Linked DNA regions of Homo sapiens: all the other regions are linked to region 5. Evidence: fine-mapped expression QTL. A gene starts in region 5. Each other region holds a variant in brackets. All regions are shown on one strand. Distances are between the middles of the regions.

Evidence for each region. PIP is the estimated chance that this variant, and not a neighbour inherited with it, causes the effect. A credible set is the group of variants that fine-mapping cannot tell apart.
Region 1: its variant is the best candidate, but not a certain one, in a credible set for the expression of WDR41 in subcutaneous fat (FUSION, PIP 0.87).
Region 2: its variant is the best candidate, but not a certain one, in a credible set for the expression of WDR41 in monocytes (Fairfax 2014, PIP 0.63).
Region 3: its variant is the best candidate, but not a certain one, in a credible set for the expression of WDR41 in fibroblasts (GTEx, PIP 0.80).
Region 4: its variant is the best candidate, but not a certain one, in a credible set for the expression of WDR41 in cerebellum (GTEx, PIP 0.84).
Region 6: its variant is the best candidate, but not a certain one, in a credible set for the expression of WDR41 in monocytes after interferon gamma (Fairfax 2014, PIP 0.68).
Region 7: its variant is the best candidate, but not a certain one, in a credible set for the expression of WDR41 in whole blood (INTERVAL, PIP 0.72).

Annotation. Positions count from the first base shown.
Region 1 is chr5:77,155,691-77,159,843 of GRCh38, reverse strand. It overlaps a transcript of PDE8B not described here. Among named protein-coding and RNA genes, the nearest start is that of PDE8B, 53 kb to the left of the region's middle. The variant C/G (reference allele first, on the strand shown) is at 1,607.
Region 2 is chr5:77,528,458-77,532,457 of GRCh38, reverse strand. It overlaps a transcript of WDR41 not described here. Among named protein-coding and RNA genes, the nearest start is that of WDR41, 38 kb to the right of the region's middle. The variant G/T (reference allele first, on the strand shown) is at 2,451.
Region 3 is chr5:77,219,479-77,223,478 of GRCh38, reverse strand. The region is part of intron 1 of PDE8B (phosphodiesterase 8B); the gene reads right to left. Among named protein-coding and RNA genes, the nearest start is that of PDE8B, 11 kb to the right of the region's middle. The variant C/G (reference allele first, on the strand shown) is at 2,471.
Region 4 is chr5:77,564,844-77,568,843 of GRCh38, reverse strand. It overlaps a transcript of WDR41 not described here. Among named protein-coding and RNA genes, the nearest start is that of OTP-AS1, 63 kb to the left of the region's middle. The variant C/T (reference allele first, on the strand shown) is at 2,182.
Region 5 is chr5:77,490,017-77,494,016 of GRCh38, reverse strand. WDR41 (WD repeat domain 41) reads left to right here and starts at 1,701. Exons shown (of 13, transcript NM_018268.4): 1 at 1,701-1,847. The coding sequence starts at 1,797. RefSeq lists silencers at 1,396-1,535, 1,976-2,195 and an enhancer at 1,316-2,239.
Region 6 is chr5:77,440,939-77,444,938 of GRCh38, reverse strand. It overlaps WDR41 (WD repeat domain 41), which reads left to right. Exons shown (of 13, transcript NM_018268.4): 9 at 3,942-4,000. Among named protein-coding and RNA genes, the nearest start is that of WDR41, 49 kb to the left of the region's middle. The variant A/G (reference allele first, on the strand shown) is at 1,794.
Region 7 is chr5:77,417,820-77,421,819 of GRCh38, reverse strand. PDE8B (phosphodiesterase 8B) reads right to left here. Exons shown (of 22, transcript NM_003719.5): 18 at 3,374-3,591; 19 at 1,933-2,053. Among named protein-coding and RNA genes, the nearest start is that of WDR41, 72 kb to the left of the region's middle. The variant T/C (reference allele first, on the strand shown) is at 2,268.

The sequences.
Region 1 (4,153 bases), 330 kb after region 5:
TATGCACCCTTCAAAAGACCAGAGGAGACCAACCCTTCATATCCTAGGCAGGCTCCAGGCTAAATCCTGAACAACTGCAGCACATTAGCCAGTGTGGGCTCACATGGGGCCCTGCCATTGTTAAGTGGTGCTCTCCTGCAGCTCAAGACTAGCACTGCTGGAGAGCAGGGGCTACCTGTAGTAATCAAGGTTCTCCTAGAGGGACAGAACTAATATGATATATGCAAACGCACCAATCCCCAACCCAAATACATATATGAACGGGAGTTGATTACATATTAACTTACATGATCACAAGGTCCCACAGTAGGTTGTCTGTAAGCTAATGAGTAGGGAGAGCCAGTCCGAGTCCCAAAACTGAAGAACTTGGAGTCTAAGGTTCAAAGGCAGGAAGCATCCAGCACAGGAGAAAGATGTAGGCTGGAAAACTAGGCCTGTCTCTCCTTTTCACGTTTTTTCTGCCTGCTTTATATCTGCTGGCAGCTGATTAGATTGTGCCCACCAGATTAAGGGTGGATCTGCCTCCCGCAGCCCACCGACTCAAATTATAATCTCTTTTGGCAACACCCTCACAGACACACCCAGAATCAATACTTGTATCCTTCAATCCAATTAAGTTGACACTCAGTATTAACCATCACACTACCTATTCACCAGGCTTGGCTCAATCGCTATGGCCAGGAGGATGGAGTAGTCTGATTGGCCAGCTGGGTTATATATCCTTGCCCCTATGGTAGAGGGCGACATAGTCAATCAAGTCCCATTGAGACCACATAGAGTAGGGCAGGAGTCCCCACAAGGGAAGGAATGATGGATATGCTTAAAAGATAGAGATGTTACCACAGAGGGCAAGGAGGCATTCTCTCACCTGCATGCTCAGGCTCCCTGACTCCCTCCTGGAGTCACCGGGCCATTTCCCTGTGTTACCTAAGGAGTATACCATCAAGTAAGTACACTTGATGTTGAGTCTCATGTGTTGCTTGTCATTCTATTATCCCCAAGAACTGGAAGAGATGGTCCCTCTTTCTCAGGTGTAGTGGGATCTGTCTTCCCTGCCGCGGGATCACAGGTGATGTGTGAGAAGAAAGACTGAGGACAGGCCACACCCAGAGGAAAACCTGGAGTCCTGGAAGGAGCCTATTTCAACCTAGGAACGTGCATGTGTGAAAAGAGTCGGCTACAGGTGGTTGTGCAAAGTTGGTAGAAGGTATTCCACCCACAGGCCACCCACCCAGGCTCCATCCACAGGCACTCAGAGCTCCAGAATCAACCAGATGTCCTTCTCCAGTTTATACAAATCTCTCCCTTCTTTAATTTCCTGCTGCAATTTGCACTGGCCTGCTAGTGACCTCCCAGTTGCTCTTGCATTGTTTTAGAAGAATTCAGCATGTCTCCTTAACTAGCAGGAAAGCCACAGGTTAAATACTACCTACTTCCTTAAGCCTCCCTTGATTACCCCAGCCTAGGATGATCTCTCTTTCCCCTTATCCCTATTTATACTGGCAGTCGACATTCTGCTTTGTGGCAGCTTTTCATTTGTTGACTTGAATCACTACATATTTTTAGCATCAGAGTTAATTCTTTGTGCATTCACACTTTCTCTCCC[C/G]ACACGTTGTCTTCCATTTCTTTATATCTCCAGCTACATACAGCACCCAGTACCAGGCAATCTAGCCTAGTGGCTCAGAACCTGGGCTTGAGAGTCATACACCTGGGTATGAGTTCCAGCTCTGCCACTTACTAGCTGCATGACCCAGGACAAGTTATCTGCCTCTATCTGTCTTCTTTGTCTCTAAAATGAGGATAAAGGTAGCCCCTTCACTGGGTGGTTGCAAGGATCGAGATAAATGAGTGGCAAGTGTCCCACACAGTGCCAGCTATTAGTATGTAAGTGTCTGTAAATACCGTCTGATTGAATGGCTCTGATGGAGGAGGGGCAGTCAGTAACTAGAGAGAGGGATGCTCTAGAGCAGGGCTGGGAAGCCAGAGCACCCGTGGGAGGACCCCATGCTGTCCTAAACAGGGAGGCAGAAACCTGGTGACCTTAGGCAACAGACTCCATGGGACAGGTCAGAGTTTTGGTTAAGGGAAAGACATGTGGGGAACTGAGGTTTCATAACACAAATTAAGCTAGTAGAATATTACTAATTCATTCAGCAAGCATTTATTAAGCACCTATTGTATGCCAGGAAAATAAGATATTTTCTCCTTGGATATAGTTAAGAGAATAATAGCTAGAGTGTGTCCTCTATCCACATTTATCCATCACGCCTCTATGTGCATATATAGTTCGCCTCATGACTTATAGCCTGAATCGTTGTGATTGTCTCTTAACTAGTCTTCACAGCCACCCTCATGTTTTCTTTGCTAATCTATACAGAGCAGAGCTGGCCAAATGAGTTTTCTAAAATACCTGAACAATGTATTTCCTTTCTAATGTTTTAGTGGCTCTCACCTGCTGGGATGTCTGTCCCTTCTGGGTCCCCACACTCCGGTGTTTCACACCTCCAAGTATGTTTCAGACACAGTCTTCCTGTGTCTCAACCTAGCAAATATCTTTTTATTCTTTAAAAAACAGTTCAAGTATGAGTTACCCTGGGAAGCCTTTCATACCCATCAGAGCCACCCACTATATTTAAATAGAGTGAATTTAATGCATGGGATTGATTTTCCAGAGGATGAAAACATGGAGTCACCAACCAGGAGACAGTGAGACAGTTTTTTAGCACCAGTAAAAAACTGTTACCACCCAGAGGCTGGAGGGGCGATTAAAGAAAGTCACCAGAGCTCAGAAGCCATGATCACCCTGCTGAAGCTGGACCCCAGTGGACCTGTCTAGTGGGAAATGGACTCATGGGAGAGACCATATGCTTTTAAGATTTTGAAGATGCCACTCCAGGCAGAGAAAGGGGAGAGCTACCCTGACTTTCCTCTTCTCCCATCCTCCAGCCTGTCCCAGCACCTCCCACTGGCTGAAACAGCCAGCAGCCAGCTGACACTGAACCTGAAGGGGTTTCTACACCCCATCCCTTACCTCCCCACCCCATTCCTGCCTCCCCCAACTACCCAGAAAGTGGGTGAACAGAGGAAGAGTGAGGGGTGGAGCTCCTTCCTTTCCTGCCTCCCCTATGGTGATAGCCACCCTCTCTTCTCTCTTCTCTGCTCTCACTGTGATCCTGTTTTCTTGATAACACTGATTCTACTGGGCTGTGATCTCTCTGTTTATAAGCCTGTTCCTTACTAGATTGTGGAGTTCCACAGGGTAAGACAATGGCCTTATTCATCTTGGCATCCTCAGCTCTGGGCATAATTCACAGTATGTAATAGACAGCAGTACGTAATAGGCACTTAATCGTCCTTGGGTATCGATTGAAAGGAAATTCCTGGGGTCACCTCCAGCTAGCTCTCCTTCTCCATCTCCTTTTTCAATCTACCTACATTGACAGTCTGAACTCTCCTCAGCACTGAAGAATAAACAAGAAGGAGCTTGGGGTTCATTCCCCTCTCTGAGTCTGCAATCTAGGGCCTTATATTTAAATTCTCCCAACAACAAATCACAATAGTTAATTACACTCAGAGCACCAACAACCTATCAGCCTTCTACCTTCCCATAGCTACATGAACATTATCCACAGAAATTCCCCTGAATCTCAAAATATCTTCCCTCTACCACCCAAGATGTTTCTGGGCCACCTCTCTCTGCTGTTAATCAGTGCGTGCTCAGGGTAAACAAACTAATTTTAAAATCAGCTTAAGCAAAATATAATTAGGAAGATAAATTAGCTGCCCCCCAAATTGCATAATGAATGCCCAAGCAGCAATTATTTTTATTATCCACCATTTTTTATTATCTATGTAACATTTTCCCTTCCGTCATTACAGATGATACTTAGCTGACAGCAGAGAGAAATAACACAGGACTTAACTTCTGGCCTTGATAATATATCTATACAATAATTACCAGGGGAAAAATACCTGGCTTTTGTTTTTCTTATCTTGAATTTATAACACCAGCCTAGTGGTATAGCAAGAAGGTACAGAGAAAAATACCCCTGATACCAGAGTCAAACAGCCAGGGTTCAACTCTTCGTTCTGATTTATTGCTATACCATCATCGGCAAGTTAGGCAACCTCTGAGAAATCAGTTTCTCTACAT
Region 2 (4,000 bases), 38 kb before region 5:
GGATATATACCTACAAGAAGGATTGCTGGATTGTAAAATATCAAGATATTCAACTTCAGTGAATAATGACTAACAGGTTTCCAAAGTGGTTGTATTAATTTCCATCTCCACTAGCAGCATTTGAGAGTTCCTGCTATTTTAAGTTGCACTATACTTGTTATTGTCCATTTTTCCCCCTGAACTTTCATCATAAAAAATTTCAAACATACAGCAAAATTGAAAGATTTCAGTGAACACCTGTATACGCACTACCTGAATTCTATCATTAACTTCTTTTAGCATTTAGAACCTTCTAAATCCTCTCCCTTGTTCCATTTTTAAATTTTTAAAATTGAGTTGAAATTTACATAATGTAAAAGTAATCATTTTAAAGTGAACAATAAAGTGACATTCACAAGTAGTCATTCACAATATTGTACAACCACTATCTCTATCTAGTTCTAAAATGTTTTCATCATCTCAAAATAAAACTCTATAACTATTATGCAGTTAATCCCATTCTTCCCTCCCCCTAGTCCCTGGCAACTACTGATCTCCTTTCTGTTTTTATGGATTAACCTCTTTTGGATATTTTATATGAATGGAGTCATATAATATGCGACCTTTTGTGTCTGGCTTCTTTTACTTAGCATAATGTTTTCAAGATTCATCCACCTTGTTGCATGTATCAGTATTTAATTCCTTTTTATGACTGAACAATACATTTGAGCTATTGTGAATAATGCTGCTATGACCATGTATAGACCACATTTAGGCTATTTTGAATAATGCTGCTATGTACAAATATTCGTATGAGTACCTGTTTTTACTTTTTTTGAGTACAAATGAATTGTGGGGGCATATGGTAATTCTATGTTTAACTTTCTAAGGAACCACCAACTGTTTTCCACAGCAGCTGAACATTCCCACTACCAATGTACAAGGGTTCCTATTTCTTCACATCCTCACCAACACTTGTTATTGTCTGTCTTTCTTGGTTATAGCCATCTTAGTGGGCGCAAAGTGATATCTTATTGTGGTTTTGATTTGTGTTTCACTAATGATGTTGAGCATCTTTTCATGTGCTTGTTGGCCATTTATATATTTTCCTTGGAAAAACGTTTATTCAAGTCCTTTGCCCATTTTTAAATTGGGTTGTTTGTCATTTTGTTGTTGAGTTGTAAGAGCTCTTTCTATATTCTGGATGTGAGACCCTTTTCAGATATACAATTTGTAAATGTTATTTCCCATTCTGTATGTTGTCTTTTTACTTTCTTTTTAATGCCTTTTGATGCACAAAAGTTTTAAATTTTGATGAAGCCCAATTTACCTATTTGTGTTGCTGTTATTTGTACTTTTGGTTTTATATCTAGAAATCCATTGCTAAATCTGAGGTCATGAAGATTTACCCCTGTTTTTTCCTAAGAGTTTTATAGTTTTAGTTCTTATATTTAGGTGATTGATACATTTTGAGTTAATTTTTGTATAACAAGCGAGGTAAGGGTGCAAGTTCATTTTTTTTGCATGTGAGTATCCAGTTGTCTCAGCACCAGTTCTTGTACCATTAACATTTAACTGTGCTTGTTTTATTATATTTCTACCCATTCATCAATCCATCTTACCTTTTTGATACATTTCAAAACAGAGTTCTTCAATCACTTTCTTCTAAATTTTTCAGCATACATATCATTAAATAGAATTCAATATTTGTTTACAGTTAATTTTTTAATGTAAATTTTACATATAATGAAATGCATAAATCTTAATTGTTCATTTTCTAGGTTTTGACAGCTACATATGACCATATATCCCAAACCTATATCAAGATAAAACATTATCACTATGCAAGGATATTCCTCCATGAATTTTCCCAAACTCCCAAGAGTAGAGGAAGTTTTTTTCCACTATAGATTAGTTTTGCCTATTCTAGAACTTCATATAAATAGACTTGTTCAGTATATTCTTTTTTGTGTAAGGCTTATTTCACCCAGTATAATTTTTTTAGTTCATCCATACTGTTGATTATATCAGTAGTTTGATTTTTCTTAGTGATAAGTGGTAATTCATTTTATAAAGATGTTTGTCTATTCTTCTATTGTTGGACACCTGGGTTATTTCCAGTCCAGGGCTCTTATTAATAAAGATGCAATCAACATTCTTGTCCAAGTCTTTTTCTGGATATATGTTTTCATTTCTCCTGGGTAAACACTTAGTAGTAGAATTGTTGGGTAATAGGATAGGGGTACCATTTTCCTAGCAAAAATGAATGAGAGTTTTGTTTGCTCTACATTCTTGCCAATATTTGAGGTTGGTGGTCTTTTTAATATTCGCCATTCTGGTGGACATGTCATGGTCTCTTATCGTGGTTTTAATTTTGCATTGATGACTAATGATGTTGAGCATCTTTCTTTCTCTCTCATTTTGTATGTGACTGGCTTTTTCTTATTGCTTTATTCCTTTCTGTATCTTGA[G/T]AGAAGCCTTTATGACACATATGTAAGATGTATCAGTCATTTCTATGGTTAGTGTTTTCCAAACTAATATTATCCCATGCTGCCAACTAAAATATTTATTTGTTTTGTTTTTTGTGCTTAGGTCTACAAATCACTTGAAACTAATTTTGGTACATCGTATAAAGAAGCAGCAAAAATTTATTTTTTCCATATGAATATACAATTTTTCCAGAACCATTTATCTTTTAAAGATCACTATTTCCCCACCATTCTATGAGCTGCTATTTTTCATAAACCATGTATTCATTTATGCCTGGATTTGCTTCTTAACTCTCCATTTTCTCTCATTGATCTGTTGGTCTGTCTTCATACCAATACCACATTGACTTAATTCTGTAGGTTTATAATAAATTTTGATATATGATAAAGCAAGTCTTCTCACTTTGTTGTTCTTTTCCAAGATTGTCTTGGCTAATCTTGGCACTTTGCATTTTCATTAAAATATTATAATCAACTCGTAAAGTTTTAAGAAAATTTGGGGTTTTGATTGTGGTTTTATTGTTTCTCTGTATCAGTTTGGGGGAGAATTGACATCTTTATAATTTTGAGCCTCTGAATCCATGAACGTGGTGTATCTCTCCATTTATTTAAACCTTTAAAGTTTTTTTTATCAGTAATAGTTTAGCGTTTCTCTGTGTAGAGGTTTACAAGTTTTTAGATTTATTCTTGTTTGCTTTTTTTGATGTTCTTTATAAATGGCATCTTAAAGTGTCTATTTGTTTATTTGTTGTTGGTATATAGAAATAAATTGATTTTGTTTATTGACTTTGTAGTCAGCAACTTTACTAAAATTGCTTTTGATATCTAATATTTTTTCTGTAGATTATTTTGTATTTTATATGTATGCCATTATACATGTCAGCTATGAATATGACAGTTTTATCTCTTTCTTTCCAATTCTTATACATTTTAATTTTTTTCTTGCCTTATTGTACTGGTACAGTACAAAGTTCAGTACAAAGTTGATAGAAGAAATGACAGTGGGCATTCTTATCTCATTCTACATTTTGAGGGAAAGCTATCAATATTTCATTAAGTATAATGCTATAGGTTTTTAAATAAATAATCTTTATCAGATTAAGCAAGTTCACTTCTAATTGTAGTTTGCTGAAAGTTCTTTTTTAAAAAAATAATGATGAGATATCGAATTTTGTCAGGTAATTTTTCTCTATCAAAATGATAATATGATTTTTCTCTTTTATTGTGTTAATGCTCTGAATTTTATGGATTGGTTTTAGTGTGTTAGTACAGCCTTGCATTTCTGTAGTAAACATGCCTTGCTCATATTATGTTATTCTTTCCATGTGTTGTTGAATTTTACTTGCTAATATTTTATGTTTGGCATTTCTAAATTATGTACATGAATGAGGTTGGCTAGTAATTTTTCTTTTTCAAAATGTTCTTGTCAGGCTTTGCTATTAAGCTTATTTTAGGCTCACAGAAGAAGTTGAATGATAGTCTTCATTTTCCTATTTTCTGGAAGTGTTATGTAAGATTGACATTATTTCTTC
Region 3 (4,000 bases), 270 kb after region 5:
TGGGTAGTCCCTACTGAGATGCAGTGTAATTGTAAAATACATTCCAGACTTTAAGAACTTAGTTCCAAAAAAAAAGAAAGAATGGGTGGGGGGAGGGGGGAGGGATAGCATTAGGAGATATACCTAATGCTAAATGACGAGTTAATGGGTGCAGCACACCAGCATGGCACATGTATACGTATGTAACTAACCTGCACATTGTGCACATGTACCCTAAAACTTAAAGTATAATAATAATAAAATAAAAAAAGAAAGAATGTAAACTATCTCATTAACAAATTTTATATTGAGTACATGTCAAAATAATATTTTTAATATACTGGTTAAGTGAACATGTACTAAAATTAATTTACCTGCTTATTTTGACTTTTAAAAATGTGATTCATAAAAAATTTTACAATTACATGTGCAGGTTACATCTGGGTCACATTTTATTTCTATTGGGTAATGCTGCTTTAGAGCTTCAACCCAAAGCAAGCCTTATCTGGCAGTCTCTGAACCATAACACCCAAGAGTATTCTCAGCCATCAACTCCACCAGACTTTAGAGTCCTTCTTAATCAGTTCTCTTGGATCCTATTTATGTCTGGCAGCTTTGAGCTCCAGGCTTAGAAAGCCTGACCTTAATTCTGCCTCTGGCCCCTGCCTGTGGCCGTACAGTTGTCTGCTCCTTGGCTTTTCCTTACAGTCTTCAGCTGACTTACCCCTCAGGCTCACAGTTCTTCATGCTCTCCCAGTAGGAGTGTCTCACCTGGAAGAACCCAATTCCCAATCCGTAACTCCTGCCAGCCAGCCGGCACTCAGTCAACACATTGCCTTCCCACAGAAGACGACAATATAGGGCACAAACAATGGAAGCTCCCGAAACGTGGAACTATGTCATATTCTGTTTTTTGAGATGGAGTCTCCACTCTGTCACCCAGGCTGCCTCCCAGATTCAAGTAATCCTCCTGTCTCAGCCTCCTGAGTAACTGGGATTACAGGTGCAAGCCACCACGCCCAGCTAATTTTTGTATTTTTAGGAGAGATGGGGTTTCACCATGTTGGTCAGGATAGTCTCGAACTCCTGACCTCGTGATCCACCCGCCTCAGCCTCCCAAAGTGCTGGGTTTACAGGCATGAGCCACCATGCCCGGCCATCATATTCATTTTTTTTATCACTCCAAACCTAGAGTAGCGCCTTAGTATAAGGCAGAAAATACACACACACGTACTTGAGAACCTAGCGGGTTTACAGGGACTGTACCTCTAGGTTGTACCAATCCTTTTAGAGATGCATTATCCCTACCGTGCAAGGAGAAATCATGCAGCTTCTCCAAAGTCACAAAGTTTGTACAGGGCAGAGCTGGAATTCAAGCTGGAGTCAGTGAGCACCTTTCCTTCACACCAGGTTACCCTTTTGCAGCCACAAAAATTATAGCAAAGGAGCTGCAAGGGGGCCTTGTGAAATGCCTCCTTTCAAAAGCTCCATGATGTTTGGGGCCTTGGCATGACTAGAGAGGGCTAGGTGGACACCAGGATGTGCCTCCACCCCCAGGGTGGTCAGTGGAGTCCCCATCTACAAACAATGAGTTTCGAATAAGGACACACTCAACTTAGCTAGAACTGTTTCTTCAAGAAAAGTGCCTCACCAACTTGAATAAGCTCCCTTCAGTCAAAACTGGGCAGTCTAAGCACAAATAGGTTTAATAACTGCAATGCATCAACACATCAAATACACATAAACCCATAACGATTCATAATGATACTAAGCAAATTAACAGGCAAAGAACTCCTGTCACCTTAGGAGAATGCTAGGGAGTCAACTCTTGAAAAAAGTTTCTTGAGGCATTCCAATGAATACATGAAGACAAAATGATAGCATATCACCATTTTACAACCTCTAATGACTAATGGATATAAGCAATGATCGTTAATAAGAGTTAGCATCACAGAAAAGAGACAACCAAACATCCTACAAAACTTCGCATACTCCGATTTTCTGTTAGCATCACAGAAAAGAGACAACCTCCACCCTACAAAACTTAGTATAATCCAATCAAACCTCTAAATCAAACTACGGTTTCTAGCAAACACAGAAGGCAGGGAAACATGTTAGATGCATCATGGGAATGCAATAAGTAAACTTTAGATTGGGGGAAAATCTACAGGACAAACAACCCAGGTTCCTCAACAAACAAACTGCAAGTATATAGAAAAGAGAGACTGGAAGGGGAAGCTACAGATTAAAAGAGACTTAAGAGGCATAGCAACCTACTGCAATGAGTGGAGTTACTGTTTGGATACCAACAAACAGTAAAAGAATAAGTAGTAAGACAATTAGAAAAGTGTGATTGATATTAAGTTGTCATATTTTTGGTATATAATGGTTTTATGATTTATTTTTAAAAACAGTTCTAGTTAAAAGATACCAACTGAGCTATCTGTAGATGAAACAGAAAATAAGTGCCACAAAGAAGCTCGACACACCC[C/G]TTTTTACCTGGAGATAAAATAGGACAGTGAAAACAGGACGGTTGAGCAGATGTAGCTCTGAGTCCCTAGCTGTGTGACCTTGGTCAAGCTACTTGAGCCGCCTGTGCCTCCACTTCCTCCCTAGCAATGTGAGGTTAATAACACCACCTGAGCCCCTCAGCTCCCCAGCACACAATGGATCACTAAAGATAACTACTCCCTAAAGGAACTTCACGAATTCTCCCTCATCTGCTTCATCAGCCTCTAATTAAACCCGCTTCTCCCAAAGGACACCCATACAAAAGAAATGGGAGTTCTAATTCAATTTTATGTTTCTTTCACAGCAATATTGTTTCAACAGTGTAAATATATTCCAGCTACATAATGGGCTAAAACTTTTTTGTGCTAACCTAGAAACCTAAATGCCACATATAACATGTTTCTATATGAAAGTCTTTCCCCAATAACAACTAGGTGCCTTACAAACTAATGTTTGTCATATAGTCTGCATATAAAAGTGAACACTGCCTTTCACGTTCATCCAAAGCATTTCCTGGTTGTGTTTTAGGATTCAAAGTTCTCACCTTTGATATAATAAGAGATTCCAACCTTTTGCCCCACCTCCTTGTCCCTTCTTGAAAATCTCAACAAAGTCTGCAAAACTCCCCTCTACCACTGCCCGTAGGGAGATCAGGCTAAGTGGATCACACTCCCTTGCCCTCACCTGTTCCTCCCAAGGGATGAAGGCTCCACAGTCAGTCAGCCAGTCCCAGGGTTTGACAGTCCTAATGGGCCAGATCACTGCAGAGAACAGCCTGGGTGTCAGAGACCTCACCCTGGGCTCCACATGTGACTGAGAAGAAGGGCAGGGCAGCAACCACAAGGACAGGAGGACCTGCAAGAGTCTACTGGGTGAGGAGGGGTCCTGAAACTGGCTTCACAGACCCAGCATTATAGATGTGGGAGGGGGAGAGCAGGAAGTCTCCTGAAAACTTACCCGCCTAGGTGTTCTGTCCCAGCAACACTTCCTAGAGCAGGTGTGTGCACGTGCATGCATGTGTGTGTCTGAGGCTGCACATGACAGATGGATCTGGGATGAAAGGTTGTATCCACCCAATGCTTGCACAGGCACAGACTAAGCTGATCCTTGCTCCCTTCAGTCTTTATTTGGCCATCCTTCTTTTGAGCATCACACTCTCGACTGTGGGGGAAAGAGACTTCTAGTTCCAACTAAGGCTCAGCTCCAAACACTATTGGTGGCTTTTGTTTCCTTGCAGAGACCCCATTTCTCGGCCAAGACTGTCAATCCATTTTTTAAGCTGAAAATGAGTATGTCCCACAAGGCCCCAGGACCACTAGTGGCTGAGGTGTGGATTGTTGGGTCATCACTGGCCTTCATAAATGTATTTGTCTCTCCATTTGGTCATTGCTCTCGTTTGAAGCTCCCTCAGCAGGAACCCTGGAGTGGACAAAAGCTCTGGCTATCCTGAACCCTTGTCATCACCTTCCAGTTCCGGAGCTTTAATGCTATTTGTGGTTCTGACGTCAGA
Region 4 (4,000 bases), 75 kb before region 5:
TCCAGATTAGGTGTGGGAAGCCAGACACACAAAGAGCTTTTCTGGGAGAGGATAGTCTGTTGATTCACTCCTGTGTTACAGTAACCTTCCTGGTTGGATATTTATCATTTGACTCCTATCTACCACATACTAGTTAATAATTCTTGTGTTTCCATGGCATCTTAGAGTGTGCAGAATGCTTTCATGGGCACTATATTGTTTAGTCATCACAAAGACCCTTGTGAACTATGTGGCCTTTAGGGGAAATTATTTTCTCCCCCAAATCATATTACCTGTGCGAGGAGTTGCTATTTAGATAACTTACAGTTACTGCAAAGTGACTGCTCTTCAAAGTATATAGAGCAGAAGAAATAGGGACAAGCAATTTCATTCCCAGCTAGCAGAGCTCTCATACAGGTTCATAATCTCAGGAAGAATGGGTTATTTTGGACATTTGAGAAAGTTTAAACAACAGATGATCCAAGGACTTAGCAACCTTTACAGCCGCACAGTGAAAATCCTGGCACAAAGGGGAACTGTTCTTGAATAAATTCTCCAATGTCACAGGCAAAAATAGCCCTTGTCGTGGTTTGGCCTCAGCAGCTGTTTGCTCTGCCTGGATCAGAGCATGGCAGAATAGTATTCTGGCTGGACAGTATCACTATCTTGTACATTTCATTATCCATAAGCCTGATACTGCCCTTAAACAGCCCTCAAGGCTACATCTTAAAGCTCTATATACCCTGGAAGCAAACACTTTCATCAGTTCTTGCTTTAGAGGAAGTGTGTATTGGATCTTTAACATGGTCTCTAAGTCAGTATAGCTGATATAGACTCAACTCAGCTGGGGGTTGTGGAACAAGAAAAAAAAAGATCTCTTGCTATGAAACCAATGGCAGGGATATCCAACTCTTTTTTTTTTTCATTCCCTAGGCACTGATTTTCAACATGTGGTCCATGGACCCTTCATACTTGAATCACTATGGTGGGATGAGGCTGGGGTCGGGATGAGACGGGAGGAGTAGGAGGATGAATAAAGGAAGAAGAAGGGCTACTTATTAAAATGCATATACTTGGACCCAAACCTATTAAGTCAGACTCTCTAGAGAAAGATTTGGGGAATGTTCATTTTAAACAGGTTTCTTAGGTGATTCAGAATAGCATTGGTTCCATGTTTTAATTTTTTTTTTTTTTTTTTTTTACTATTTGGTTTAGGGTAATTGTATTGTGTTTACTTCAGTACTTAGTTTGTAGAGATAACATTTATTACTAATTAAAAATAGTTCTGTTGATGCAGTGTTTGTACTACTGCTTGAGAATGAGGGGTTTGCACTAACCCTGTAATGTTGGTATGTACATGGGTCAAGTAACTCTGTGAGGATGGAAGTGGTGCTCTTTTTTCAACCTCAGCATCAGCCAGCCTTCTTGCAAATGTACAGGCAGTAGTTGATCACAGTGAACAAGCCAAGAGTGCAAATCTTTTTCTCTGGTGGCTTAATGACACCTACCCAAGAATGCTAGGAGATGTATAGAAAAAACTAAATGCTGAAATGCAAGCCAGTCACTTATTCTGTTTGTTAGCTAATATAATAAAAGCTCCATTGAGGAAGAGATGGCTTAATACCTTGACTAAAATTAAATTTTTGTATTATCTGTGGATTTCAATTATTCATGCTATTCCAAAACTGCAAAGCATGAAAAATCTAGAGCTACTTATTACCTGTTCTAGTAGAACCTCTAATAAGTATGTGGAAGCCGATATCAGTGTAAATAGAGCAATGGACTCTGTCGCTCTACCTCATTTGTTTTTAGCATTTTAATAGGGCTCAAATTTTCAGTGTGTAGTTCAAGACAAGAAAGTTGGTTCATGTACTACCATATTGGCTCTCCTATGAATGTTGGAACATATTTTTTCCCATTAACATGAACTGATAGAAGTGTCTCATTCCATCACATGGAGTGCCATTTAACTCTAGTGACTTCTGGTGCCCCTCAGATCATGCTGACTGTTAGGAAAACCAGACCCCCAGGCCCAGACATGTGCACAGACTTTGATTGCAGTCAATTCACGCACCCTGAGGCATAGCAGGTCTGTGTGTCCGAAGAAGTGGGCAACATAAAAAACAAGTCACTTATTATCCTGACATAAACAAATTTTGATGTCCACTCTACTTTCAAAAGCATATTCTTTTAATCCCTCTG[C/T]CCCCCACCACACAAGCGTGCATATGTATGCACCACACCCTCAAACTCACTGAATAAATAAATCCCTTTCTTTAAAAAATGGCAGCAAAGGCCCAGAAATATTGAAAAGGAAACTCTCTAATGAAATATGTGTCTTGGCTTGCTTTAATAGCCTTCAGAATGGACAGTTTGGGTAAGGGGGAATTTTTATTTGCATCTTTTTTTGTCCTAGAATGGTTTAGGTACTCATCGCTGCAACAAATATGCATAAATTAAGAGTTATCTAAAAGGTTATGTAGTATCAATATAAATAGAGACCCAGGGAGACCTAAACGACATACAGGACAGTGAGTAGAGAACAGTTGCCTTTAACTAAACAAACACATAAAGATTAGTAAATAGTAAAATAGCTTAGTTCTAGGCAGATGAGTTAGATGGCCTCATAAGCCCTTTCTGCTGCTCATGTTCTATGATTCCATGGTGTGTTAGCTAAGACAATAAGCTTTGGAAAGACTGCCCAGGTTTGAATTTCAATGCTTCCTCTTATGAATGGTATTAAGCTCACAAGAGGAAGAACTGAAATTCAAACCAGAGCAGTCTTGACCATAGAGAGGTAAATTATTTCACCTCTCTATGTTTATTTCCTTGTCTAAACAAGGAGTTTTATTTTAAAATCCTCATAGGGTTGTTATGAGAATTAAATGAGTCAATATATATATCTGCTATGCAGTAAGAAGTCAATGGGTTTTAATTAATTACAATAATGTGTTGAATACCTACAATACACCTTCAGATGTTATCAGGAGAAACATGAAAACAAATTTTTGGTTCTTCTTTTCATGACATTTACACTCTGTCTATGGAGAGAAGATTTATAAAAATGTAGTAGGAGAAGTATAAAACAGCATGGTACTGACTTAAATCACAATAGGAGGCAGAGAAGGAAAAAATGTAGAGGGAAGAGTATGGCTAGAGGACACTAGGTAAGAAGGTCAGATGGGGCTCATCTTTGAAGGAAGGAGGAGGTTTATATTGGTGGGTAGATGGGGAAGGAATCTTTGAGTCTTTTCCCTTTTAAATCCCTTATAGTCAATCTATCACCAATTTCTTTCTCTTTAATATGTCATTCAAATCTAAATAGTCCTTTCTACTCTCATTGCCATGATTGCAGTCCAGGGCCTCATGACCTCAAGTTGGAATGATTCAGGGGGCTCCCAGCTCAGGGAAAATGAATGGAGGAATTGACACGAGAATAAGATTAGAAGACTGTCCTTGTCAGACTAAAAATTAGATCTGAAAAAGTAAGGTGGGGCTAGGTTATGGAGACTTTTAGGAATTGGCAAAGGGCATTCAGCTTAACGTGCCTGGCAGTAGGACACCATTAGAAATGCACCATGATAAAATTGGTATTTAAATGCACTGTATGTGTTGAAAGTGGAAAGACTGTAGACATGAAATCAATTGAAATCATGGTTCCAAGTCTAGTTGTGTGTGAGAATCAACTGGAGAGCTTTATCCCCCAAGTCTTCTGATTCAGTAAGCCTGGGGCAGCCTGAGAATCTGTGGTTTTGCAAAATTCCCTCAGGTTATTGTGCTCTGCATCTAGGATATGAGAAGTACTGAGCTGGGAGCCCACTGCCTCATTCCAGGCTTGAGGTCATGAGGCCCTGTAGTACAATCATGGCAATGGGAGTAGAAAGGACTATTTAAATTTGAATGACACATTAAAGAGAGAAAAGAAATTGGTGATAAATTGACTATAGGGGATTTAAAAGGGGAAAATACTCAAAAATTCCTTCTAAGTTTCTACTTTGATAGAAGAAAAGATAGTTTGAAATAC
Region 5 (4,000 bases):
CAAATTACATCTTTATACATTGTGTGCCCAATAATATACTAATCTTGTAAAAAATTCTTTCTTAGCTGTCCTAAGAGGAACCAAGGGAGGAAGTGTTCAACCCTGGACCAGTGCTTTAAAGCATCAGCAGAATGTCCCTTACATCAGAGTAATGTGGCATTGGGCAAACCCTAAAGAGCATGGGGCAAACCCTAAAGAATGTGGATAATCAGAAGAATAAAATGTAGGCTATTTGGGCAACCACATTGTCTCACGTGAAGATATTCCTTCCAGAACTGAACTCCTGATGTCTCTGAGTTTTGTTTTACTTAAAGATAAGTCCCTCTTTCCCAGGGGATAGTCTCTGTTTTGGTCTGTCTTCAACTGTATGCAGACTGCAATTTGGGGCTAGCACACAGAAGGCAACATGCTCCTGATCCTTGGGAGTGTGTTCTTGCCGAGTGCACTCAAAAGGAATACAAAGATGAATTATAGGAGATCCGAGTTCCAGAGGGACTGTAAGTTTGTGTAGCTGCTCACAACCAACTTAGCTTAAAGTGGGATGTATGGCTCTCTCTTATTGGTGACTGGGACATTATGCCTTGTCCCTCCAGAGCAGCATTTTATGTGATTCCTTTCTGCTTCTCTAGTGCATCTGTGTCCAATACATGTTTGCTGAATTAATGCATTAGTTGGGACATTTGTAGATTCCCTACAACAATTTACTGCTAGGAGGATTATTTGAACCTAATACATATGCAAATATATATATTTATACTTTTGCAAACATGATATGTATAAGTAGTTCCTAGACCAGTGATTTTCAGACCTTGCTACTCATCAGAATCACCTGAGGAGCCTTCCCAAAACCCCGATTCCTACGTCCCAACCACAAAGATTATTTTAATGAGTCTGAGGTGGAAGCCAGGAATCTACATTTTCAAAAGCTACCCAGGTAATTCTGATATGCAGTCAGCATAGATAACCACAGCCCTTTGACTACCTAAGAAAATGTAGTAGTCAAAAAAAGGTATATGAACTGCCTTCTATTCTTTAGGGAGATTCTATGTTAATATAGCATACGGTCAAGAACACTACCAATGTAGCCACTTCCTAGCTGTTATCTTTAGACAAATTACCTAATCATTCAGAGCTTTAGTTTCTTGATGTGTAAAATAGAGGATATAGGTTTACCATGAGGATTTATGTAAAGCCTTAGCACAGTAGCTGTACTATAGCACACAGTAAATGTTGGCCGGATTTATTCGGCTGTACACATGAGCCACTGGATTTGTCTGGATGCAGAAGTCTACTGCGGTACACCTTCTTCAGCAAGCTCTTGGGAAAGCAGGGGAGATTTCCTGGTACCCTAGGAAGTGGAGGATACTAAAGCCATGTCACAGGGAGGGGCATTATTCTTCGTGCGCGCTTGCTCGCCGGGGTCGGGTTGCTGCTCCGCGCGCGTCCACCAGGGGCCGCTCGAGCTACCTAAGCTCCGTGCGCTACCCGGCGGCGCTCCCGCGCGTGCTCACTCGGAGCAGCGCGCGCCCCGCAATCGCCGCAGCCGCCCCCGCCGTCGGCCGCCGCACCCCAAGCGACTGCCCAAACTAAGCCTCCGTGGCTGGGTACGGGAGCGCTTTGGGGACAAAAATTCTCCCTCAACTGTGGTCTGCATTCCTTCGGCCCGTGGGCTGATCTGGGGCGGGAAGTATTAGCGTCTCAGTTGCGCTGCAGCCGGGGAGGAAGGAGGAGGCCGAGCCTGGGGCGGAGTTTGGGCTGACTGGGGCTGGACCGGGCAAGACGCCGCCGCTGCCCGGATGTTGCGATGGCTGATCGGGGGAGGCCGAGAACCGCAGGGACTGGCCGAGGTAAACCCCGGGTGGGTCTGCTCTGCGTCCGTCGAGCTTGCTGGAGGGGCGGCTTCGTTCCGGTTCGGCCTTCCTGGGTTCCGACCGCGGGGACCCGGGCGGAGGCGGGGCTGGCTGCTGAGCTCGTGCCACGCGCTGTTCTCACGACGGTGGGGGCGGAGGGCGCGGGAGCCGGAGCTCCTCAGACCCGGCGGGACCCCAGGCGCACCCTGGAGCTGCAGACCCCCGGCCCCGTCCCACGGCTAGCTGAATCGTGAGATCCTGGCTCAGGGACGCTCAGCTGGTCAGCAGTCCTATTGGGACCTGTGACAACTTAGGGCTTCTGGCTACCGAAACTATCTTCATTTCCACTTAAAAAGTATACGATTTAGCTAGAAACGAACGAGTTGTGACCGCAGCTTTCCACTTTTGGTTTATTTGAATTGGTGTCTCTTCCTGGCGTCTACTGATACTTGGTCAGGGAATATAAAATTAATTTACTTATCCAACAACCGAAAAAGGATATAATTATTTTTAAAAAGTAATCTGCTTCAAGGTCAAGAACATGATTTTCTAATTAACTGCTGTTTTTGGTTTCATAGTCACACTTTCTTCATGGGCCCGAATAATTGAATAGACCGTGTGTAATGAAATTTACATTTGAAATGTGAATAAAATAATTTTTGCAGTCTTGGAAATTTTGAGGTCCCAAATTTATTTCGTATGCCACACAAGAACTTTCATGCGCGTCCGTGTGAAGAGACCACCAAACAGGCTTTGTGTGAGCAATAAAAGCTTTTAATCACCTGGGTGCAGGCGGGCTGAGTCCGAAAAGAGAGTCAGCGAAGGGAGATAGGGGTGGGGCCGTTTTATAGGATTTGGGTAGGTAAAGGAAAATTACAGTCAAAGGGGAGTTGTTCTCTGGCGGGCAGGAGTGGGGCAAGGTGCTCAGGGGAGCTTTTTGAGCCAGGATGAGCCAGGAAAAGGACTTTTACAAGGTAATGTCATCACTTAAGGCGAGGACCGGCCATTTTCACTTTTGTGGTGGAATGTCATCAGTTAAGGCGGGGCAGGGCATTTTCACTTCTTTTGTGATTCTTCAGTTATTTCAGGCCATCTGGGCGTATATGTGCAAGTCACCGGGGATGCGATGGCTTAGCTTGGGCTCAGAGGCCTGACAAGAACAGAATTTGTGAATTGCATTTTATTTCTCATAAGAAGTATTTGTTTAGATTGTTAAAAGTAAGAAATTGGATTGTTGAGAGTAGGCAGTCTTCTCAATTTTAACTTCCGCATGTCTTTGCAGTTGACGGTATTGTCTGTTTTTAAAAATTTCTTATTTCAGATTAATCCTAAATCCTTGAGATTGTGGATTATTGAATAGCCATATATGGTATATACGACATTTTGGATAATTCTGTTTTAACCTGGTTCTTTGGTTAATCATGTTATTTGCTTAACCAGGTCTCCCATTCCTGGCAAGTTTTCATTGGAGGAGAAGCAGTTTATATAGTTTTCAAATTTCTCACCACAATCTCTTCTAGAAGGAAGACAGAATAAATACAAAATCAATGCTTTGTGGTGGTGGTTTTTTTTTTGGAAAACATTTATGCATGTTTTAAATTTATATATTTCTTCATATAAATCTAATTGAGTTGTATAACTGCTGTGAATTTGTACATTATCGGAACCTATGATTGTCCCTAATTTATGCAATAACTTTGTATCCAGGCTTCTCGTTTAAGCAGTGGTTCTCAACTGGGGTGATTTTTGCCCCGCAGGAGACATTTGGCAATGTCTGGAGACATTTTTGATTGTCATGCCTTGCAGAGGGGCAGTTCTATTGGCATCTAATGTGTATAGACCAGGGATGCTGCTCAATGTCCTGTAATGCACAGGACAGTTCTCAACAACAAAGAATTATCTGGGCTGGGCGCGGTGGCTTACTCCTGTAATCCCAGCACTTTGGGAGGCCGAGGCGGGCGAATCACTTGAGGTCAGGAATTCAAGACCAGTCTCGCCAACGTGGTGAAAACCTGTCTCTACTAAAAATACAAAAATTAGTTGGGCGTGTGGTGCGAAAAAAAAAAATTCTCTAGCCCAAAATGTCAGCATCAAGTTTGAGAAATCCAGAGTTGATTTCATGCCTTCATTTATTCATTTAGCAAGCATGT
Region 6 (4,000 bases), 49 kb after region 5:
TGATCTTAGTTATTTCTTGTCTTCTTCTAGCTTTTGGATTAGTACTTTTTACTTTATAAACTCTATGACTATAAAATTATACTACAGATAATAAATAAGCCAAAGGCGTATTTAGGAATCAAACATGACCAAGTAGTCTGTTAAAATTTGAAAATGATCTGCTGACAGTCTCATCTTGCAGTACATAGGCACGTTAGCCATGATGTGGATGTCAGTGATCCTGAAATGTTTATGTTGTACAGTTCCCTGCTTCACTTGCAGGAGCTCTGCTCCTTTCTCCTCACCCATTACCAATGAAAGATATGGCCAGTTGCTTGGGATTGTACATCACAGGGCAAATCTGTTTTCAGAGGGGTGGCCCCAGGGCAACCTTAGAATTGTATGAGAGAATACCAACAAGTGTGGATAATGAATACCAGATTTGCTAAAAAGATTGGAATGCCCAGGCAGAAGGTTTTCTAAGACAGACAAAAAATAACTGATAATCTCTCCAGGCAGAAGGCTCTGGGTGCTCCTTTATTTTATTCCTTTTCTTGTATTATGTTGCCAGCATCTTTTGGTAATCATGAAGTACTAGTACTTGTGAGGGATGGATAGACAGATACCAGGTGAGATTTTCATACTAAGTGGCTTTTGACACAGGATGAAAATCCATCCACTAATAATATATAATTGAGGTTGTTTGTCATGAAACATTTTGAATGACCTGTTTGGGAATTAGTTTGCCATGTGTAAACTGCTTAAAAATATGTGCTGATTGGCCAGGTGCAGTGACTCACGCCTGTAATCCCAGCACTTTGGGAGCTTGAGGTGGGTGGATCACCTGAGGTCAGGAGTTTGAGACCAGCCTGGCCAACATGGCGAAACCCGTCACTACTAAAAATACAAAAATTAGCCAGGTGTGGTGTCACATGCCTGTAGTCCCAGCTACACAGGAGGCTGAGACAGGAATTGCTTGAACTTGGGAGGTGGAGGTTACAGGGAGCCAAGATTGTGTTACTGTACTCCAGCCTGGGTGACAGAGTGAGACTTCATTTCAAAAAAAAAAAAAAAAAAAAAAAAGTGCTGATTGAGCTGAATGCCGTATTTTATTTTTAGGGAAAATTCCAACTGGTCATTAATATTTTGTTTCTACTGCATGGAGGTATCACAGACACTTGGAGGATTAAGTCAGAGCAAGCAGCTGCATGGTCTCAGTAGGTTAATTCTGTGTTGTGACTACAGATGCAGAGTGAGAGTCAAGGGGAATCTTCACTCCTTAGCTTCTCTGGTTCTTTTGTAGTTTGAATGAAATAGGAAAAAGGAGGGAAAGGTGTGGGAAAGAAGGTCCTGGGAAGATGAGTACTGCCTTAACTTTCCCACTACTAAAACTAGAAGCCCGTTTTGCTCCACAGATGAGAAGTGATTTCTCCACAGAGCAAGTTCTATAGAGTCTGTTAATAAACTATAGAAATTAGATATTAATAATCTACCTATTATGGCCTTGGAGTCAAGACAAATAATATTTACATGTAGGATTGCTGGTAATTCTGTATCTCTTAAGAGATTGTTCATGTGGTCATTAGAGATTTCTGTCGTGCTGGTTTATTTGATAAATGAAATAATTAAATCATAATTACTCATCTGTATATTCCTAAATTAACAAGTAACAGGATGTTTTAATACGATTAATGTGGAATAATACCAGGGGCTCAAAATACTACCAGGGGCGCAAAGATAATATTTGATGTCTTTTTAAAATGGCTACACGTTTATTATTCAATTTGATTTTTAGTCACTCATTTAATGCATGA[A/G]GAATCCAAGATAAAGGTTAAACTACTTCCTAAAGACCACCTGTCTAGCAACAGGCAGAGCCAAAATCAGAACTTGGGTTTCTAGACTAAGTGCATTATAGTCTTCTGTCTTACCCTAAATATGTAATAATTTAAATAAATTACATTTATTTGAAATAAGACTAGCAGTTGTACATTTTCTATTAAATATATAGTGTGTAAAATAAATAATATGTAAAATGGAAAAAAATCCTTTTTTTTTTTTTTTTTTTGGGGAGACAGAGTCTCGCTCTGTCGCCCAGGCTGGAGGGCAGTGGCGCGATCTCGGCTTACTGCAAGCTCCGCCTCCCGGGTTCACGTCATTCTCCTGCCTCAGCCTCCCGAGTAGCTGGGACTACAGGCGCCCACCACCACGCCCACCTAATTTTTTGTATTTTTAGTGGAGACAGGGTTTCACCGTTTTAGCCAGGATGGTCTCGATCTCCAGACCTCGTGATCCACCTGCCTCGGCCTCCCAAAGTGCTGGGATTACAGGTGTGAGCCACCGCACCCGGCTTTTTTTAAAGGTTTTAAAAACTTGTAAAAGTTATACATAGTCATAGTAGAAAAATATGAAAATAGTGAAAAACATTAAAAATATAAAAGTTAATATTAAAATCTTTCCACTATCCAGTATTAAACACCAGTCCACATCTTTCTAGGTGATTTTCTGGGCCTATGTATGTGTGTACATGTGTATTAATATGGTTTACTGTTTTGTAACAATATGTCATAAATATATTTCCATATCTAAGTTTATATTGTTAAGCATACTTTTATAACTTAATTTTTAATAACAGCATTACTATTTCATTTTGTTGATGTCTTATTCAATTCTCAATTCGATGTGTAGTTATCTTCAGATTTTTAAGATTGTGTATTTGTACATATATGTATGTAACAACCTTGTACATTTATGTATTTCCTTCAGGATAAATTCCTAGAAGTGGAATTGTTGGATCGAGATTTACATTTTTCAAGGTTTTGATACATATTAGCAAATTAATCTTTGAAAAAAATACTAATGTATAGTAGGGCATTAGGCAATACAGGAATGTGCTGATTTCTTATGCTTTTGCCAGTACTGTGTTGGGTATTTTCCTGTTTTATATTTCCTGATTCACAAGTCAATAAATGGTATCTCCTTGTTTTTAGATTTCTTTGATTATTAAAGGAGTTGAACATCTTTTCACGTTTACTGACCATTTGTATTTGTTTTGCCTTTTCAGGTCCTTTTCCCATTTTTTTTTCTGCTGTATTTATCTTGTTCTTAATAATTTCCAAGAACTCCTTATGTATCAAGTATAATAAACCTGTTTTGTCATCCAAGTTGCAAATTTTTCCCAGCTTTTTGTCATTTCAGTGTATTTGTGTGTGTGTGTGTGTGTTTTAGACTGAGTCTCGCTCTATTGCCCAGGCTGGAGTGCAGTGGCGCGATCTCAGCTCACTGCGACCTCTGCGTCCCAGGTTCAAGCAGTTCTCCTGTCTCAACCTCCCAAGTAGCTGGGACTAAGGTGCACACCACCATGCCCGGCTAATTTTTGTATTTTTAGTAGAGATGGGGTTTCACCATATTGGTCAGGCTGGTCTCGAACTCCTGACCTCAGGTGATCCACCTGCCTCGGCTTCCCAAAGTGCTGGGATTACCTCGCCCGGTCCTTGTTTTTGTTTTGCCAAGCAGCTACTTACTAGGATCTCTTCCCCTGGCACCCCACTCTGCTTCCGTTAGAGCCCTTTACCACTCCACATTCCTAAAAGTATTCACCTTTATCTTCTTCCATCCTTTAACTAACTTTCATGTTTTAATCTATTTGAAACTTATTTTGGTGTATGGTACAAGATAAGGTTCTTTTACTTTTATTCCCCTTAAATGTAACCAGATATTCCAGCATGAGGTATTTCTTTACTGAAATGAAATGCAATCATTATTACATACTAAATTACTAAGATAATTTGAGTCTATTTCTGGCCTTCTTATTCTGTTACATTAATCTTTCTGTTGGCTTGCCTAGGTACCTCACTGTTCTAATTACTGTGGTTTTATACGGCATTACTACTAGACATTCCATTCAGTTATATCTTTACATAGATAAAATGATCGATAATGAGGCATATGTGAACTTTGCCTAGATTTGAGTTTTGTCACCGGCTCCCACGTCGGAGAGCTGATCATCTGGGATGCCCTGGAC
Region 7 (4,000 bases), 72 kb after region 5:
TGGAAAACAGATGGTCAGATCAGGCTTGGTTCAAGATGACGGTGAAGCCCACAAGGGTTAATTCGCCAGGCATTCGATGGTGATCACCGAGCACACAGGTAGGACTGGGACTCGGCGAAGGCAGCTTTTCCTTTTTTAAATTCCATATATAATATACTGACACATTCTTTAAAAAAAGAATATACTGATACAGTCTTAAAAGACACTCAGCAATACACACACACACAGAGTTTGAAAGTTGAAAGTCCCTGTCACCACCTGTCTACCCCTCACATCCATTTTCTTCCCTAGAGGTAACTGCTACAGCAGTTTTGTTTTTATTTTGAGCAATTTGATATGTAATCTTAGAGGAAATTTCTCCCAGTTTTTTTAAAAAAATGTGTAAAAGCAGAGCTTTTAGCTACTTTAATGCATTTCAGGTAGGGCAGTGGCACATACATGTAACCCTTCAATTATTTCTTGATTTCTACTACTTATGCCTACCATCTCCCTCCCTCCTATGACCTGTCCCACCCCCAACTCACCCAACTCTCTCGCACTTTGGTTCTCCTAAGGCATGTGTCCACTCATGTTTTCTTGGCTGTTCTTCTGACTGGCTGGTAAGTGAGCCAGGTAGGCGTGGGGTCCTTGGAGTAGGAAGTAGTCAGGAGCAGGTGTGTTCAGCCATGTTTAGAAAGACTGGTCCACACCTAGTGGTGATGTCAGTGTCCTGAGCCATGTGGCCAGGACACGAGTTGGTACACACATCACAGGCCATTTACATAGAACCTGAAAGATTGTTATTCTCCACTTTTAAAGACACCATCAAATTGATTGTGTAAAAACAATTAGGTCTCCAGAGCTCTGCCAAGCCAAAAGGCTGCATGACATTTGGGGGGTTTAAGACTGGACCTATTTATTAGACTATCAATGGGCAGAATATGTTCTGGAGGTTTTTGATTACTTATCAAAGTAATACTGTTTACTATAAATACTGCAGTTAATAGTAAGTTGCAGTGCAGAGGTGGGGGCTTACATGAGTGGATGACCTTCCTAGTTCTATGAATCTCTATACTTTTCCTTCTCTAAATCCCCAGATCCTTGCTCCTGTAAGTCTTCTGTGGAAGGAGAGGGCTCTGGTGTTGTGCTGTGGAATCCCTGGGGGAAGGAGCTTAAATAGGTGAGGTAGACACTGTCACTCCATCCAGACTGGTCATGGGATGGGTCCTACACAGTTCATCTCCTTACTGAGCAAGTTACTCATGATGATCATTCACATCCATCCAGTTTGCCAACCTCTGCCGCTCAACAGGAATGAGCGGAAAGCTTTTCTACCTTTATGGGGTTATGAACAGCTTCATGGCTTCAGAGAACAGTGGATCTTATTAGGTGTGAACCTTCTGTTTCATGTTCCTAAAAGCCAAATTGGTAAGGACCTTAAGGCAGGTCCAAGGTACATGAGTAGGTTTTAAAAAAGGAAAACACAATAAATGCTTCTGCTTTCCAGTCACTCCCAGTTTTATGATAGTCTTCAGGTACTGGTATGCTTTTAATGTGAATCAGGAACATTCTTTGTTTTTTAAAACACCTTCCAACTTTGAGGTTTTCCAAGAGCTCAGTGAACAGAGAAGTAAAGGCTTTGGATTCTCTAAAATACCACCATTTATGCCAGTCTCTGTTCGTCTGCGTCTCCTTCCATATTCTTTGGGCCAAGCTTTTCTGGTCAGTACTGGCTTTTTCTCAGGGCCTTTCTTTCAAGGAGCTCAGAGTTGCTGTGGACACAGTTTATTTTCATCCCCAAGGAAAACAAGTGGCCAGTCCTTTCAGCCCTTTATCAACTCCAAGTAAATAACCACCTTACATTTGAGTGGGAGAGAAAATGCTTCAGGGCCAGAGCAGGCTCTTATGGAAATGTACTTGGATGTGCCTTATGGCATGGAAAGCAGTACTCACCTCAGCTGCCATTGGCTTGTTGATGCTGTTCACAAACTTATTCACATGTTCAAAGTGTTTTGTCATCTCTGTTGCCAAAACCATGTCAATAATAGCCTGGCGCAGCGTTCGATAATGGTTCCTAAAATAACCACAAGACAAAGGGGCTTGTTCACAGCGTGTCTCAAATTATAACTATTCTGCCACCATTTCACTACACTCCTCACAACCTAGGAGGAAGCTGGGGCACAGAGTTAAGAAATGTGTGCAGATCACAAGAAGAGCTCGTCCTCCCAGTAAGCAAGACTTGCAGATGCTATTCCATTTTCCCCAGTGATAGCTGACCCTTATGTGAT[T/C]TATGAGTATTTTAAAAAAGAGAGAAGGTACCTGTCACATGGTGGACGTTTATCTGACAAGGTGATTCCCCTCTCCCTTCCCTTGAGAACATCAAAACAGTAAGGTGGCAGGAAATGGCAGGCTGGCACGGCAGCCACATAAGCTGGCCCACTGCACTCTGTGCAAACACAGGGATTCCCATTGCACAGGATGGCCACAGCCTCTTTCAATGATGGCATTGGAAGACTTTCCTGTTAATAAGTAATTCTCTAGACTGCAGCAGATAGAAATTGTAATGAATGAAGCAACAACCCTGCCCCAAATTAACCATCCAATTCTGTCGTCGTTTTCTAACTTCAAGAGCCAGAATGGCTCTTGAATAAAATTGGCTACTGGAAAGAATTTTTTCTGCAAAAGTTTAAAAACCCATCCTCGATACTGATGAAGCTGAAGCCAAAGCTGGAATAACTCATCTCCATGTTTTCCCAGTTTTCTGGAGACCAAACCAATAGGTTCACATAGACCAGCATTCCTGAGGCCCGAGTGAGCTCCATGTTCTCTGTACACTGCCCCCTTCCCAGGCATCTGTGCACCAGCCTGGCTGGTGCTGTGTGGGAAATACCCACAAGCCTGACTGCAAGGTGCTGGGAGGCAAGAGGACCTGCTCACATCTAACCCACTCTCATCAGAGAATGCGGGGCTGGGGTAACCTGCCCCACCCTTCGTGCTCCCGCTCTGTGGGACCTACTCATGAGGGAGTATTTTAAGCGGCCGGAAATTGAGCTAGGGAAAAATGGGGGTGGATACATTTTCCTCGAGTTACACAAAAGACAGGATGTCCTCGTAGGAGGGTAAAAATATCTGGTGTACTTAGTAATAGTACAATCAATATTTATGTAGTGTTCTGCAGTGTATAAAACATTTTTATGAACTCACTGAAGACCAAATGAGATTTCAAAACATAAAGGCAGTCTGAAAAGTCAAATTAAGTTAAGGGCAAGGTTATTTTATCATCTGGTACAGTGGGACAGCTAATATTTTCCCTTTCCCCTAAGAGGAAGCTAAGTATTTGGGAAAACCACTTAAACTTCACAAACTTGAGCACAGGAGCCCCAGCACAACAAACCTGTCAATATTCTTGAAAATGTTGCATTTGGTGTCCTTGACCGTGAGCTGGAAGGCCAGGGCGGTGTGGTGACTCTCCAGAACAGCAGTGTCATTGTAGAGCACAGCAAGCTCACTGCCTGCATTGCAGAGGAAAGAGTTGGTCCTTCCCGGGTGATCCACGTCATGGACTGTGGCAGCAATGAGGGCTGCCACCTCATCCAACTGATCGAGGCTTCCCTGGGATATGGGGAGGCAAGGTTGAGCATTACCCACTGGATCTTGGAGACCCACATCCATCCTTGTCTGTGCGGAGGGTCGGGTCAGGGGATTTGAGATTTTCAGAACGTTTTTAGCCAGCTGAGCCTTCTGACCTAGATGTGGAGAGGCGGCCTCGGACATGCAGCATCGCTTTACTGTGCTGTCTGTTATCTGGAGGGCAACCTGAGCCACAGTTACAGCAGACGCTTAATTCATTCTCCAGGGGCCATCAGCTGCAGGAAGAGGCCAAACAAGCCTTTTGAATTGCCCACTGTATGGTATTTCTGCCACAGCAGAAAGTGGCCTGTGATCACAACTATTACCAATTTGCCTAGCTCTGAAAAGATTTTGAGTGTGCTGGTAGCAAATGGCTCAGATACAACAAAAC